2 linked regions of the Homo sapiens genome follow. The protein of the gene in region 2 interacts with the protein of the main gene of each other region in a pairwise test. Each region holds a gene or a part of one and is shown on either strand. Other genes may lie near its edges.

Evidence for each region.
Region 1: the proteins of ARPC3 (region 2) and DUSP29 interact in binary tests that used the Homo sapiens proteins (3 or more experiments, as listed by UniProt).

Annotation. Positions count from the first base shown.
Region 1 is NC_000010.11:75,039,758-75,042,745, reverse strand, and holds part of DUSP29 (dual specificity phosphatase 29), read left to right. Parts: intron 1-2,988. UniProt on the Homo sapiens protein: Dual specificity phosphatase able to dephosphorylate phosphotyrosine, phosphoserine and phosphothreonine residues within the same substrate, with a preference for phosphotyrosine as a substrate. Involved in the modulation of intracellular signaling cascades.
Region 2 is NC_000012.12:110,437,292-110,440,451, reverse strand, and holds part of ARPC3 (actin-related protein 2/3 complex subunit 3), read left to right. Parts: intron 1-63; coding exon 64-140; intron 141-3,160. UniProt on the Homo sapiens protein: Component of the Arp2/3 complex, a multiprotein complex that mediates actin polymerization upon stimulation by nucleation-promoting factor (NPF).

The DNA.
Region 1 (2,988 bases), on a different chromosome or scaffold from region 2:
GGAACTTGCAACCTGGGGCTGGGCCTAGGCCAGGTCTGCTGGACAATATCAGACCTTAATGGACATCCCAAGGTGGCCCTGGCCCCACAGCCAACCATAGCCACCAACAATTTGTCATTATTTTGGCTCAGAAAGCAATGTCACAATGAAAAAAAACCCTTAGAGCTAACATGCCTGTATTAGAAGATGCCTCATTTCCAGGCCTTCCTTTTATGAGTCTATTTATGAACCATCTTTTGTGCTGTGTACATTCTGGGTTTCCAAGCAGGATCAAAAACACAACTGAACTGAGTCATCACCACAAGGTAAAATTTGCCTCATAGTATTTGAAGTTAACTGAAAACACATTTGACATGAAAAAAACAAAGACTGCAACAACCTAATCCTTCAGTTTCTGTTTAATGCACTCACTTGCCATTACTATATTTTAGACCTTACCCTTCATGGAAGGGGCCTGGCAGGCTTCGGAGAAGACAGGGCTGGGTTTACATTTCTGTCACACAATTTACTAACGATGTGATTTCTCTGAGCCTTGGTTTCTCCATCCGGTGATAAAAATATTTACCTTCAGAGGTTATAATGAGGATCAGCAGTAACGCGCGTAAAGCGCTTAGCATAGAACCTGGTGGACAGCAGGCTCTCGGATGTATTTGATAAAGCGTGGTCATACACTGTGAAGCATATAACCACGCCAGCATGTGCACATCATCATCGTAAAGTTTCCAATCCTCAAAGAAAAAAAAAAGACATTCCAACTTTGAACTGTAAGATATACTCACATGAAAGCTTGTTGTAGGTTCCTGGCACTCAATTTTAGGGTCTGCCCCCACTGCCAAATCCAGAAAGAATCAGGCTCTCAAGTTGAAGCTTAGGCCTAGGCAGATGACAGAACATTATGAGGAGGTGTCAGGCTGCTGTGGATCATGACTGTTAGACCAGGTGGCACCTAGCAAACAAAGGGCCAACGGAGGAGAGTAGATACTTGGATCAGAGACTATGAGTGGGATAGAATGAATGGATGGGGGTGCCGGGACTCGACCAGATGGCTAGGGATGGGGAGCAGGACATGACCCCACTGGAGATGGCAGGGTAGGCTCTGCTCTCAGCACCTTTGCACTGGCATATCTAAATAATTCAAGTCAGGGCTCAAACGCCTACCCTGCAGAACCATGCAGAGTGTAAACAAATGAAGATGGCTGCATGTACAGCGGAGGGGTGTGGGTAGGGGGCACTTGTGGCTAAGCAGAGAGCCCTGTACCCCTTCAGAGGGGCACCTGCCACCCAGCCTCAGCTAATGCTTGTCTTGTGAGAGTCAGTGCAAATGTGGGAGATCTGACTTTTCAGAAGTCTCCAATCTGGATTATAAAATCACTCGATTTTTAGGTCTTGGCAACAGATTGAAATTTCTTAAAATGCTGCAAAGGACAGACTAAAGCAACCCAATGGCCATCAGGTTGTAACCTGTGCCCTGAGTGGCCAGAGCAACCAAACAAAATGCCCGCTAGCTCAGCAGCAGCAATGCCACAGACTTCATACCCAGTGGACGGCAGGTGCTCAGCCCACCTGCCACATGCAGTTGTGTCTAGGCAAGGGACACTGCTTGGCATTTTAGTGCTGGACCTACTTGTATGTTTCTTACACTCTCTATGTAAGTGGTGTGGATAGACAGTCTGGCCAAAAAGCAAGGCATCACTCCTTGCTTCCTCTTGTCTATGTTCTTTGTTCTCATTGACTGGTTTCAGCCAAGTGTACACCATTCCCCCTACCTGGCTTCTCACAGCCGGTCATTTTCACTCTTTTTGAAAAGCGTTCCTTGTGGAGCTGTACTCGTGGGCTGTAATCAGCCCCTGGGGCCCTCTCCCATCCCATCACTACCCTGACTTGACCCTTTATAAAGAACTCCCCAGGCAACCTCAGTCACTCTTAAAATATCTCGGAGATAATCCAGTCCCTGGTCCTGCCCTGACAGCTGGGCAAACAGAGGCCCAGAGAAGACAAGTGAGGTGCCCAGGGTCACAGAGCTAATCAGAGGCAGCGCCATCAGGACACCTGCCTACCAGCGGGGATTCCTTCTGTCACCGAGGCCTCACAGAAGAGTCCTCTGCCCTTATTTTGAGCACCTGGTGACTTTGCTGTATAAGAGGTCACCGAATATCATGGAGGGCGAGTCATGCCAGCTGGTTATAGGATCTGAAAAAACTGAATTTGTCACTCTTCATCAGAAAAAGAAGTACTCACAAAATACTGTCACAGGAACCCCACTTGGGTTGCTTTAACTGCCCCCGATTCGGCATCCTCCGAGGTGAATTAGTGTGGTTTTAATTTAATGAAGTCTTCTAAGAAACTCCAGGGCAAATGCCACGAGGCGCTAAAGATCAGACTTTAGTATCACGCTCTCCTTTTGGCAGTCCATGGCCTGCTTCTGAAGGCATCTTAAAATATATTATGGATAAGGGAAGTATGAATAAATAAATGAAGCCTGCTTTCAAGCAGGAGGTTGATTCTCTGGTGCTTCTAATAAGCTTTAACCGACCAGATTTTCACTGTTTGGTTTTTGTTTTTGTTTTTTTGAGACGGAATCTCGCTCTGTCACCCAGGCTGGAGTGCAGTGGCGTGATCTCCACTCACTGCAACCTCCACCTCCCGGATTCAAGCGATTCTCCTCTTTCAGCCTCCCAGGTAGCTGGGAGGTGCCCACCACCACACCTGGTGAATTTTTGTATTTTTTAGTAGAGACAGGGTTTCACCATGTTGGCCAGTCTGGTCTCCAATTCCTGGCCTCAAGTGATCCACCCACCTCGGCTTCCCAAAGTGCTGGGATTAGAGGCATGAGCCACCACGCCCAGCCGATTTTCACTGTTGGAAGGGTCTCTTGCCCTATCTCCCTCCAGCCCCGGCAGTTCATAATACACCTTGCACCTTGTTTCTCAGAACTTCCACACACCTAGAACCTCTTGGGAAGAAGTAAGGGCTCTACCAGAATTTCTT
Region 2 (3,160 bases):
ATAGTTGTTATGTTTTGTATTTGGCTAATGTTCTCTGTGCTCCTTCCCTTGTGTCCTGCTTAGCAAAAGATACAGATATTGTGGATGAAGCCATCTATTACTTCAAGGCCAATGTCTTCTTCAAAAACTATGAAATTAAGGTAAATTACGGAGCTTTTAATATTTAACTTAGTTTTCTCATAGGGATAATACCAACCTTGCTATCCAGATTGCTGTGAGGAGAAAATAAAATGAAATCAGCATGTAATTTTTAAATTCGAGAGCAGTGCTTAATGTTAGCTTTTGTATAAATATTAGTTTCTTTTTTTTTCCTCCAAATTCTATACCAGGGGTTGGCAAACTCTAACCTGAGGGCCACATTTGGCCCACTGCCCCTTTTTATGAATAAACCTTTATTGGAACACAGCCACAACCATTTGTTTCTATATTATCTATAGTTACTTTCACACCAAAACAGCAGAATTGAGTAGTTGTGACAAAGACTGTATGGCCCACAAAACCTAAAAATACTGCCTGCCTTTTACAGAGAAAGTTTGCCAACCCCTTGCTAGAAGTATCTTTATTTATTCAACATTAGTTAAGCAGCACCTACTATGTGCCAGCCTTTTGTTTTGTTTTGAGACAGGGTCTTGCTCCGTCGCCCAGGCTAGAGTGCAGTGGCACAATCACAGCTCACTATACCGTCAACCTCCTGGGCTCAGACAGTCCTCCTGCCTCAGCCTCCCAGGTAGCTGGAACTACAGGCATGCACCACCACACCTGGCTAATTTTTTGTATTTTTAGTAGAGACGGGGTTTCACAATGTTAGGCAGGATGGTGTCTCGATCTCCTGACCTCATGATCCGCTCACCTCAGCCTCTCAGTGTGCTGGGATTACAGGCGTGAGCCACCGCTCCCGGCCCTAAAATGGAATTTCAGCCCCTCCTTGCCAAACTCTGAACTTCTGGAATCAAACAGGTTGTGAATTATTTATTTGTAGACTCTTGGTGTACAAATTGTAGTCTAAACATTCTGTGATGGTAATAGAATGTTTTCTATATCTCATGTGTGGGTTAAGTTTGTAACAGTTATAAATGTTACAATTCTCTGGGCACATTGCTTGAGTTCAGGAGTTCGAGACCAGCCTGGGCAACATGGCGAACCCCCGTCTCTACAAAAAATAGAAAAATTAGTGCATGGTGGCTCACGCCTGTAATCCCAACACTTGGGAGGCTGAGGCGGGTGGATCACATGATGCCAGGAGTTTGAGACCAGCCTGGCCAACAAAGCGAAACCCCATCTCTACCAAAAATACAAAAATTAGCCAGGTGTAGTAGTGCATGCCTGTAATCCCAGCTACTCGGGAGGCTGAAGCACAAGAATTGCTTGAACCCAGGAGGTGATGGTTGCAGTGAGCCGAGATCACACCACTGCACCCAGCCTGGGCGACAGAGCAAGACTGTCTCAAAAAAAAAACAAAAAACTCTGCCACATTTCATTTGTTCCCAGATACTATATTGTCTTAAAAATAGGGAAATGTGGCTGGGCGCAGTGCCTCTGCCCGTAATTTGGGAGGCCAAGGCGGGCGGATCACCTGAGGTCGGGAGCTTGAGACCAGCCTGACCAACATGGGGAAACCCCGTCTCTACTAAAAATACAAAATTAACTGGGCGTGGTGGTGCGTGCCTGTAATCCCAGCTACTTGGGAGGCTGAGGCAGGAGAATCACTTGAACCCAGGAGGCAGAGGTTGCGGTGAGCCAATATCACGCCATTGCACTCCAGCCTGGGCAGCAAAAGTGAAACACTCAAAAAAAAAAAAATATATAGGAAAATGGTGTGGTTTGGGGGTAATTTTTTTGTTGTTTTTTTGTTTTGAGACAGAGTCCCGCTCTGTCACCAGGCTGGAGTGCAATGGCGTGATCTCGGCTCAGTGCAACCCTCGACTCCCGGGTTCAAGTGGTTCTCCTGCCTCAGCCTCCCAAGTAGCTGGGATTACAGGCACGCGCCACCACGCCAAGCTAATTTTTGTATTTTTTGGTAGGGACAGGGTTTCACCACGTTGGCCAGGATGGTCTCGATCTCCTGAGCTCGTGATACACCCACCTTGGACTTCCAAAGTGTTGGGATTACAGGTGTGGGCCACCGCACCCGGCCTTTTTTTTTTTTTTTTTAATTCGAGACAGAGTCTTGCTCTGTTGCCCAGGCTGCAGTGCAGTGGTACAGTCTTGACTCATTACAACCTCTGCCTCCTGGCTTCAAGCGATTCTGTGGCCTTAGCCTCCCTAGCAGCTGGGATTACAGGCGCACGCCACCATGACTGGCTAATTTTTGTATTTTTAGTAGAGACGGTGTTTCGCCATGTTGCCCAGGCTGGTCTCAAACTCCTGGGCTCAAGCAATCCACCCACCTCAACCTCCCAAAGTGCTGGGATTACAGGCATAAGCCACTGCACCTGGCCTAAATTTGTGTAAAATTTGACCCAAAGTCCATACCACATTTGATCAACATTCATTTGTCTTCTCCACATTTTCTTTTTGGTTAGGTCAAGACATTGAGATTATGGAGTTCTTTGGGAGCAAGTCAAATGTGAAATAGTTGCTTCCTCCTTTAGAGTAATGACTATTTCTGTTCTCGGCAGAGACCCTGAAGGGAAGGGTTTTTAAAAATTAGCCAACCATATGGAGCAGTTCAGGCTTTCCAGGCAGCTTTGTTACTTCTTCCTATACAGTGAGGGGCTGTTGACACAGATCCTTGGGAACCCTGGGGCAAGGGGAGCCGAGAAAAACAAGAGAGAGCAGCCACTCAGCCGAGCGTGGTGGCTCATGCCTGTAATCCCAGCACTTTGGGAGGCTGAGGTGGACAGATCACTTGAGGTCAGGAGTTCGAGACCAACCTGGCCAACATGGTGAAACCCCGTCTCTACTAAAAATAGAAAAATTAGCCAGGCGTGGTGGCGGGCACCTGTAATCCCAGCTACTCGGGAGGCTGAGGCAGGAGAATTGCTTGAACCTGGGAGGTGGAGGTTGCAGTGAGCTGAGATTGTGCCACTGCACTCCAGCCTGGGCAACAGAGCAAGACTCCGTCTCAAAAAAAAAAAGCAGCTGCACATCTCAGAGTGGGGCTTGTGCCTTCCTCCCAGGGGCAGACGGAAAAGGAGACTGAGGAGACTGTGCATTTGGA